Linked DNA regions of Homo sapiens: region 2 is linked to region 1. The links come from fine-mapping of genetic effects on gene expression. A gene starts in region 1. The other region holds a variant in brackets. All regions are shown on one strand. Distances are from middle to middle.

Region 1 (5,383 bases):
AAACCATTTTTTAAAAATCATAGTAAGTGAAAGAAGCCAGTCACAAAAGATCACATTATATAATTCCATTTATTCAAAACGTCCAGAAGAGAGAAAGTTACAGAGCTAGAAAGTAGATCAGTGGTTGCCTAGGGCTGGGGGTATTATTTAACAAACAGCTCAAGGATGATGAAAAATGTTCTAAAATTGACTGTGGTGATGGTTGCACAACTTTGCAAATATGATGCTGATGATCCTCAAACCACACTTTGAGCAATAAGGCTATAGCTATATATTTATGTATATAATTCACATATATGTATATTCTTGTGTGTGTGTGTGACAATTATATTAGCCCCCCGCCTCCATTTTACTGACCATAATATTAAGCAAAAAGAAAAAGCAAGAATTTTATTATTTATTTATTTATTTATTTATTTATTTGAGATAGAGTCTCACTATGTTCCCCAGGCTGGAGTGCAGTTGCATTGATCCTGGCTCACTGCAACCTCTGCCTCTCAGGCTCAAGAGATCCTCCCACCTCAGCCTCCCAAGTAGCTGGGACCACAGGTGGGCACCACCATGCCTGGCAAATTTTTTGTATTTTTGGTAGAGACGGGGTTTCATCATGTTGCTCAGGCTGGTCTCAAACTCCTGAGATAAGCGATTTGCGTTCCTCAGCCTCCCAGACTGTTGGGATTACAGACATGAGCCACAGCACTCGGCAAAGAATTTTAATTTCTACATTTTTTTACCTTTTGGAGGGCCTAAATTCACACACACACATATGACATGTATCCATTCATTTCAGGGGTTAAAACACAGTGGCCTATTATCTCTTACAACTTCATGTGAATCAACAATTATCTCAAGGCTGGACGCAGTGGGTCATGCCTGTAATTCCAGGACTTTGGGAGACCGAGGTGGGCGGATCACTTGAGGCCAGGAGTTCGAGACCAGCATGGCCACCAAGACAAATTCCTGTCTCTACTAAAAATACAAAAATTAGCCAGGCTTGGTGGCACATGCCTGTAATTCCAGCTACTCTGGAGGCTGAGGCGGGAAGATTGTTTGAACCCGGGAGACAGAGGTTACAGTGAGCCAAGATCCCACCACTGCAGTCCAGCCTGGGCAACAGAGTGAGACTCTGTCTCCAAAAAAACCAAACCAAACAAACAAAAAAAAGCCCCACATATTTCAAAAAATTTTATTTTAAGAAAAACAAAAAAACCTACTTTCAATTAAAAAACACAGTGGTTATGTTAATGCATCACCACATTCCTAGAGAAGTATTAAGGCAATGTATGTAAGTAAGTACATATACTCAGGTGCATTGATAATACGATTTATGTATACTTTCAGCAACAACACAAGGGGAGAGAAGATGATTTACTAGCTCTCCTCATAAAGCTACAAACAAAACCACAGATGTAACTCAGGTGGGAGTTTCCTAGTTTATGGCTAACTTTAGCTTATTAACACGACAAATATTATCATTTTCACTGAAAAATTTGACATTTTTTGTTGACTCAGCCAATCCAAGAAGCTTAATTAATATATAGTCCCTGCCCTCAAGAGACTTCCAATATAGTTGGAAGAGACCAGGCAAACACAAAGAAAGCTAACAATGCAATATATACCACAAGGCAGCATATAATTAGTTTTCGAATGAGTGCTAACAGACCTTGAGACCACTGGTTAAAATGTTTATATATCTATATAGATATACATAAATGGTAAATATGTTTTTTCATTTTCAAAAACTTTTTTTCCGTTTTCAAAAACTGTGAACCACCACTAGCAGACACCCTATAACAAGGCCCACTGTTCATTTTTAAATTACACATATAAAATGTTTCATTCAGAAAGCAAACCTGAAGCCCTTCAGCCTCCTCCACACTCACAATTCAAATTATATAGAACCTACGAAGCTGGTTAGAAAGCAGGTAATCTCAGAAAAAAGGGTGGGGGTGACAGCAGAAACAACCAGGGATCCACAAGGTCATACCAAAGGGGTGGTCGGAAAGGAACCTGGGGAAGGGAGAGAAGGCTGGAACGCTTACTTACTTCTTGTTATCAGTGTAGAAGCGTGTTTGGAGCTGAGCCATGGCGAGGAGTACACACGACTTGCCCACGGAAACGTACGGGTTAGCAGACCCACAACACGAAGCTCCTGCCTTTTAAGACTACAAAGAGGCAGCTCAAAATTAGACTGCACAGGTAAGCGAGGAACTGCAGTCTAAGCCTGGACTCTGCCTTCTGCCCTCCGGTCTCCTCTGCAGAAAGCACGAGGTTGCCCTTCTACAGACGCCCAGACCACAAACATCGACTACCTACTCCTAGATTTAGGAGTCATCGATTAGAAAAGGATAGTCGTAAAGGTAGCATGTCCCTTTAATCATTGTTAGAATTCTTCCCATACGTGTGGGCCCGTAATCGATTAGGAAAAAGATCCCACTCAAATCCGCTTTATTAATAAAAAATTTTTTTTCAAGAGGCTGTCCTGAGCCTGGATAGTTCAAACACAGCTCCTAGTTACTACAAGTCTCAGAAAGCATCGCTTCTCAAACGCTGTGACCACCGGGAATTGTAGTCTTTTTTTGCCACGCTGCCCTCAGAGTATCTTATTTGCATTAAATCCTCTAGACTCCAGCCAGATATCAAATTTCCTCTGCCTTCAGCTTTGCTTGACTAACGCCTTGCCAGTTTTTTTTTCTCATACATATTCCCAACCAGAGGCTCACTCGGCAGAGGTTTTTCCTAAATCTCGCCTCTAACTGCGGCTTTTAGAGAGAGGCGAGAGGCGGAAATACAAAGAAAAGAACGGATGAGAGAGGAAACGGTCGACGGTGGCCGATAGTGGTCCTACTGTCGTGGGACTGCTCTGCGCGCTCCCGGTGGGGCGCGCCTGCGCATTATGCTGGTCTCCATGGCGGGGCCTCGGAGCCAAGACGAGGTTGAGTAGACTCGTTTTGAATTTTCTCCCCTCTGCTCCGGCGGACTTCCCATGTCGCCTTGTGGGGCTATCGGCGGCGGCAGGACTGGGGGAGTCAGAGGTCTGGCAGCGCTGTCTGCGCAGACCTACCGGACGCTACCTCCCAACCCCCCGTCTTCCTCCTGCCTCCTCCTCCTCCCGTCACCTCCTGACCCGCCGGAGCTCCGAGCAACTGCCGGCCTCCGCCCCCAGCCGCAGCCGGTCACTGGCGGCGCCTTCCGCGCCAAGCTTGGGGGCCTTTTCGGGGTCCCACATGGCACGGCTTCCGACCCCCGGCCCGGGACGGGGCTCGCAGGCCCCAGAGGGGCAGGCTGGAGAAGGAGGAGGTTAGGTGTCTTCAGGAGGGTTGCTGAGCCCAAGGACGCGCCATCGCCGCGGAGAAGGAGCCGGACCCCTTGGGCGGAGCGCCCAATGTGTGGTCCCTCACGCCGTCCCGCACCTTGCTTTTTAGGGTTCTTTTTCCGCTTTCTGAGCCCTTTTATACCTTACGTTTAGAAGGGGAAAATCATCCTCCCACACCTTCTCCCCGACTTTTTGCCTTTTTTGTCTTGAAGTTACCCAAAGGCCTGTGTATTGTTCTCAATGGTCCCAAGAATTACTCTAATATAGTTGTTTTTCTGAGGGAGGATGGATGGAGATAACTATCCTGATCCCAATGTCACTTTTTAAGGCATTCGCTTCAAGAGACAAGCAGTTTAGAATCAGGCAGAACTGGATTGCAAAATTTATGGGCAGACCGGTATGTGTGCAGGTGAAGACAAAGCTTTCCTTTTTTACGTTGTTTAAAGATGTCCTACTGTAAGGTAGACGCCTAATGTTTAAATGAACGCCTAATATTTAAATAGAGAATGAGAAGAGATTTAAACAATTGGAAGAAAAAATAATTTTTATTAGAGAGCAATGACAATAAAAGTAGGACTCTTTTCAGTTTACTCACCTTTGTAGCTCCGAATCCGGGCCCTGGAACCAGAATTCCTGGGTTCAAATCCTGCCTCTGCTACTTGATTAACCTTTTTGTGCCACACTTTTATCAACTATAAGAATTAACTGCGGCATCGGAAGCACTCAGTATATGTTAATTATTATCATCAAATAGTTACTAATTCCAGTTTAACTAGAAGCTTTGCCAGCGTGAATAGATAAGGGAGAATAGCCACATTGAGTGGAGGAATAAAATTAGAAAACCTCTGTGCTGAAGTCCCAGGAGATCACTTATTAGGCTTGAGCTTGCTAATGGAAGTGGTGATCGTTTAACCATGTGGTTATTGTAGTGGTGAGGATTTACACATTAAATAAGTCTTGGGCATCTGAAGCTTGAAACACTTTCTTAATGAAATCTTGCCGTTGAATCTGTACTTACTGGTAATATGTCATTGGTTAAAATATATTTATAAAATGTATAATTGACCAGCAGGTTAATACATTTTTATCATTAATTTGAAATTTATCAAAATGAGAATATACAGTACCTGACAGTAGAGTTTGATCTTAATTTGATTTGAAAATTATGATCAGGAAAATAACCTGAATATATGCTTAATAATATAAGACTTTCAGTTTGCAAAACAGAAATCCTGACTTGACTAAAATACACTTTTCATTTGACGGAGACCTTTAGTTAAGGAAAGATTAGTTTTAGCATTCAACATAACTAAATACCCAGCATTATGTTTTACGGTTTTTTTCAACAATGATTTATGTGTCGTGTTTGGTGTTGCCTCCAAACAGTACCTAGGATAGCTGATGCTTTTACTTTGAGTCTTTTTCTTTAGTTGGAACATTAATTGCAAGCTTTTGGTTGGTAATCATTTTTTATGGGATGTATTTACTATATGGTCCTCATGGAGACACATTGTTATCTGGAGAACCACAGTTTGGAAAATACATTTCTCTTTATTATAAAGTTTTTTGTTTTATATATATAATGCCACAGTGTGATAGGATACAAAGACTATGCATTAGGGCTTTGGAGTCTTAATTGTTCTTTGTGTTTTTCTTTTTTTCCAATTTGATTATGGATCCAAGCCTAATGCACTCTGTGATCTTAAGCAAGTTTCTTGACAGTTCCAGTTTTCTTATCTACAAACAGAGACAAGAAGATCTACCTCAGAGTCATTGTAAGGATTAAATAAATTTGTAAAGCTCTCAAAGAGCAGCCTAATCCCAGCATTTTGGGTGGCTGAGGCGGGTGGAGCACCTGAGGTCAGGAGTTTGAGACCAGCCTGGCCAACATGGTGAAACCCCGTCTCTGCTAAAAATACAAAAATTGGCCAGGCATGGTGGGGGGTGCCTATAATCCGAGCTACTGGGGAGGCTGAGGCAGGAGAATTGCTTGAACCTGGAAGGTGGAGTTTGCAGTAAGCCAAGATCACGCCACTTCACTCCAGCCTGGGCAAAAAGAGTGAAACT
Region 2 (5,383 bases), 140 kb before region 1:
TTCTGGTGGGTTTTTAATTCACCTGGCTTTTTTGAGGGAAAGACTTATATAGTTGGTTTTTTGCTCAGGCTGGAGTGCAGTGGGCAATCGCGGCTCACTGCAAGCTTCACCTCCTGGGTGCAAGCGATTCTCCTGCCTCAGCCTCCCCAGTAGCTGGGATTACAGGCGCCTGCCACCAGGCCCGACTAATTTTTGTATTTTTAGTAGAGACGGGGTTGCACCATGCTGGCCAGGCTGGTCTCAAACTCTCGACCTCAGGCAATCTGCCTGCCTCGGCCCTCAAAGTGCTGGGATTACAGGCTTGAGCCACCTCACCCGGCCTATAATTGGTTTTTAAATCTCTGTGACTTGGCATGCCCATTTAAGAGAGAGGGGACAGTAAAATCATCCGGATCACAATTCAAATGTGTGCTTGAAGGCACTACAAAAAAATAACCAAAAATATGTTAGTAGTGGTTATTCCTAGATGGTAGTGCTATGGCTGATTTTTTTCTTTCAGAAGATATTACTTTAAAATGGGAAAAAAGAAACAACTTTTTATTTTTTTAAATTTTTTATGAGAAAGTGTCAACATCTTTATTGCTAATATAAGCATTTAATGTCAAAGAAATGAAGGTAATTTTACAAACTAAATTTTTGTAAGTACATGAAATTTCTATTTGATTATGTGGTTTTATATCACATTCGTTCAAATGCATTTCTTTCCCTTAGAGGGACTATTCCAACATCACTCCTTTGGAATTATTTCAGTCATCCCTAACATGTGACTACCAAAGACCTTGAAGCTAAACAAACAAAGAAAACAAAATTTCAATGACTCTTAGATGAATGGAATAAGAAGTAGTCATCACATGTCAATTAGGGATGTTTATCTCCAACAAGACACTGTCAAAATGTTTCTTCTGATAAAGCAGTTATGTCAGAGCCTTCAAAAAACACGGGCAGAACAAGAGTACAATAAAAGAAGCGTCTGCAACTTAAGCCGTCCACAGTCCTAAGCCTGATATGCTCAAAGCAAAGCCTCTTTCCCACAAACTAAATTCCATCCATTTGAGCTTTCAGAGATAGATGCCCAAGAGCTATCATTAATATATACAGCATATTGACTCTAGTTGCATCAGTTATGCATGAAGAGTTTAATAACCATCCAGGTCCAAAGGTGGAAGAATACATACACCGGTATGGTAATAGGCAAGAGCAGGCTGTAAAAGCAAAGGCTAGCTGTGCAAGTGCAGCCCTGTGGGAAGTTTTCTTCTACAGAGGCTGAGTGGAACAGTCCTGCTAAATAAACCAGTGGAATAAGAACAGTCAACGTAGAAAGAGACAGAAAGATTCTTCTCTTCCGCTTATTACTTGCCACTGTGTTTTAAAAGGTATATGGTACTAAGAAGAGTTGGCTGTTTTATTTTTTTAAATTATGAACTAGCGCTGCTCCACTTCTTGCTTCTTTGATGTGTCATCCTAGCTGCCTAATATGATAATATTAGGAATCCCATCAATGATTGGATAAGCTATTCTCAACTCTTCATTAATCAATTCATTTGTTGATGCTTCATATCTGAGCGGCTTCTTGGAGAGCGGGCACACCAGGAACTCCAGCAGCGCCGGATCGAAGGCGCGGGGCGGCTCCTGAGTCTTCTCGCTCCTGTCGGCCAAAGGCCGTGACCCCGACGCGTGCAGGCACCTACGGGCGACCGCGGACGGCGGCGCGCGCGTTCCCCGCAGCGCTGAGGCGAGCCTGCCGCGCGCTCCGCTCAGCGTGGTCTGGCAGCCGGAGACCAGGCCTCACTGCGCCTCCAACAGCCAGGGTCGAGCCCCTGGCTCCCCGTTCGTCCAGGCCAGCTCAAGAAACAACTTTTTCTTTCATGTTTTTTGTATGTGTTTTTTTAGGTTATGGTCAGTGAGGTTTAGCCACAAGAGATATCACAGGAGAGACACAGGAAAAAAAGTTGTAATATACTCACAGGTCCTAGAGAGACCAGTCACTGCATGCTGAGAGGGGGTCACATGGGAGGGGGCTCAGCCAAGCAGGTGGGGAGCGGAGAGGCCTAAGACATGGGCAGGAGCCTTTGGGTCAGGGAGAAGCACACAAGAAAAAGAGAATTTCACTGGTGCATTTAAATGTTACTAGGTCATGGGCAAGGTAGCAAGGGAAACTTGTGGCAGGGGCCACCCATATCACACTGGGCCAGGTGCTCACAGCCTGTTTGTGGAGATGTTGAGGCAGCAAGAAAACCGGAAGTTTAAAACGTACACTACAAATGTAAAAACATACACTGCAAAATCTCACCCACAACACCAGTCAGAACTTCATCTCCTTTTTGTATTTACTCTTTGGCCAATGAGTAGTTAATTTACACCACTGAGTGAAGAACCATGTTTTGACTTTAAATGCCAAGGACAGTTTGTTTTGAACTCTTTAGTAGTCTTTTAAATGGTACAGAAAAAGATGGAAAAATAGCTTATGTTGGGCTTCTGGATGTGACCCATCTTTACCAACCATTTTTCTTATCTTGTCCCTTAGTTTTCTTTGCCATGTTTAAGCACTTTACTGTTGCATGAAATGCATTACTTTCAGTTCTACTAAATTAATATTTTAAAGTTCGTTTTTCCTTCCTAATTTCTATATTCCAAAATTCTGGGACTGCTTCATTGCTCAAGGTAGAGAAATGCAGGGCCCTGCCAACACTATGGAAGACAAAAATAACTGAATCAATTCTGGCTCTCTTCTTTTTATTCCTGCCTTCAATAAGTCAGGTTACATACTATGGCTTATATTTAATTGTTTGTGTCTAGGCTCAGATTTTTGATATTTGTTAGTTTTTGTTACTGAAAGTATTTACATAAATAACGTACATTATATTATTTCCCATATCTTACATAGTCCCCTTGTATATGAAATAAGAACGAATTCATCTCACAAGGATTTTCTTTTGAGACGGAGTCTCACTCTGTCACCCAGGCTGGAGTGCATGGCCTGATCTCAGCTCACTGCAACCTCCACCTCCCGGGTTCAAGCGATTCTCCTGCCTCAGCCTCCCAAGTAGCTGGGATTACAGGCATCTGCCACCATGCCCAGCTAATTTTTATATTTTTCATAGAGATGGGGTTTCACCATGTTGGCCAGGGTGGTCTCAAACTCCCAACTTCAAGTGATCTGCCTGCCTTGGCCTCCCAAAGTGCTGTTATATAGGCGTGAGCTACCGCGCCTGGCCTTACAAGGATATTAATTGCCCTGGTTTTATTTTCGTTCTCCCATGTCCGTATCAACTCAATGTACTTTCCTAATACTATGATCTTGAGGTAAAACCCAAGTTTTTGAATAGGAAAACAATAATTGTACTAAAAACTTCAGGAAACAAACTCTTGTTTTATGCCTTCTTGCAATCTTTATTAAAAGAGGCTCAGAAA[AATAG/A]ATAGAGCACATGTAAACTTCCTTCGTTCTAATGCTGTAAGACCTCTACATTTCTAGATGGTCTATACAGATACGTGAAATATTTATAGTTAAAATACAAAACACTTTTTCAGTGTGCAAATACTGAAACCTGTTTGTTGAAATACAGTTTGTTTCTAATCATATCAAGGTTCTACAATTAATGAAGGATTTCAAAAACATACAAAATTACACCAATCTGATCTTATTATGCCCTGGTATTCCTGCGTCTCCTAAAAAATGGTTGTAGACACACTAGGCAAAGTTTAGCTCGTCTGGTTTTTTTTAGACTTAAAACACATTTTTATCCAGTATAACATAAAGTATAGATATTTCTCCCCATTTAACATAAAAAATATCTATTTTGAGGGTTGTTCTCAGCCTACCATTGGTTAAGGATAATTAATTTACTTCTTATTGAATGGATTATCTAGATTGAGACAAAAAGCAACCAGTCATTCTCTGTTCTGTGCTTATCCCGTCCTTTCCCTCGTTTCTTCAGTGTGGTGGTTTTTTATATTAGCAGTATTGGTTTAATAGAGCAAAATTTCTTTCTGACCACAAAAACTGCTGAGCTTCAAATAACTAATCTTGAGAAAATACGAATGTGGTTACCTTCATCTTAATATAGTTACTGATATGCTCTTCAAAAACAGTGGTTGGACTTGTTGGAAGTTAGAACTGGACTTGCTAAGGAAGTTAATGTTGCTCTGGGTTAAATGGGAAACATATACTCTGTTGAAAGAAGAAATGTTATAGAAACTAGTAACAGAATAATAAAAGTCCCTTGTATGTCTCCATTTCGGGAGAACTTTTGCTTTTGGAAAATTTAGGGTGTTCCTAGTATGGACTTTGGGTTTCTGCTTTGTCTGCTTGTTAAAGTATCTGTATTCGATAACAGGGACTTCCTTGCACACATGTGAGGGAGATAAATATCTCAGAACTAATGCATTAGCAAGGTGACCACTACAAAGAAAAATGGTACAAACTCTCAAGACATAAAGTTAGCTTTTTTTTTTTTTTTTTTTTTTTTTTTTGAGAGAGTCGCTCTCTGTTGCCCAGGCTGGAGTGTAGTGGTGCAATCTCGACTCACTGCAACCTCTGCCGCCTGGGTTCAAGCAATTCTTCTGCCTCAGCCTCCTGAGTAGCTGGGATTACAGGCATGTACCTCCACACCTGGCTAATTTTTGTATTTTTAGTAGAGACAGGGTTTCACCATGTTGGCCAGGCTGGTCTCGAACTCATGCCCTCAAATGTTCCACCCGCCATGGCCTCCCAAAGTGCTGGGATTACAGGCGTGAGCCACCATGCCCAGCCAAAGTTTTAGCATTTTTTGAGGCACTCAAAAGTTGAGAGCATCAGAGTCACCATGGGTATAGAATTCAGATTGGGATTCGTAATCATGATCTTGGTGATTGGAACTTGGCAGAACAGTGACAGTATTACATTCTGGGAAATTTCACTGAGTATAAAGGAAGACTTAAGTCTTCTGAAGAGATAAGTAATGGCTCATTAAAATCTAAAAGAAATAGGAGTAATATTGTGAAAAGATTTTATGGAAAGACTTCATACCTTTTTTCTGAGTCAATGTTTCTGACCTTCAGATAAGGTCTTTCCAGCCTATACTGTACTTGGCCATTGTAGTAGTTTTCTGGAGAGCCTGTGGGCAGTTACTATTGTAGATGGCTATGGATGGGACATGGACTGCATTTTACCTACTCTGGTCCAATGTTTTCTATGTACCATGACAAACATTACAAGCAATCCTTTTCTAAATAAGCCTGTTTAGAATAGAACTAAGAGCACATGGAAGCTACTGTGAATAACTTAGTTAAAATGTCTTTTTTTTTTTTTTTTTTTTTTGAGACGGAGTCTTGCTCTGTTGCCTAGGCTGGAGTGCAGTGGCGCCATCTCAGCTCACTGCAAGCTCCGCCTCCCGGGTTCACGCCA

The links. PIP is the estimated chance that this variant, and not a neighbour inherited with it, causes the effect.
Region 2: its variant is fine-mapped to the expression of CARF in whole blood (TOPMed, PIP 0.97).

The regions. Positions count from the first base shown.
Region 1 is chr2:202,909,390-202,914,772 of GRCh38, forward strand. CARF (calcium responsive transcription factor) reads left to right here and starts at 2,886. Exons shown (of 17, transcript NM_024744.17): 1 at 2,886-3,713. It overlaps WDR12 (WD repeat domain 12), which reads right to left and starts at 2,284. Exons shown (of 13, transcript NM_018256.4): 1 at 2,047-2,284. The coding sequence starts at 2,087. RefSeq lists enhancers at 2,467-2,616, 2,627-2,776, 2,817-3,016, 3,117-3,166.
Region 2 is chr2:202,772,603-202,777,985 of GRCh38, forward strand. It overlaps ICA1L (islet cell autoantigen 1 like), which reads right to left. Exons shown (of 13, transcript NM_001288622.3): 13 at 574-5,383. It also overlaps the pseudogene PIGYP1. Among named protein-coding and RNA genes, the nearest start is that of ICA1L, 96 kb to the right of the region's middle. The variant AATAG/A (reference allele first, on the strand shown) is at 3,412.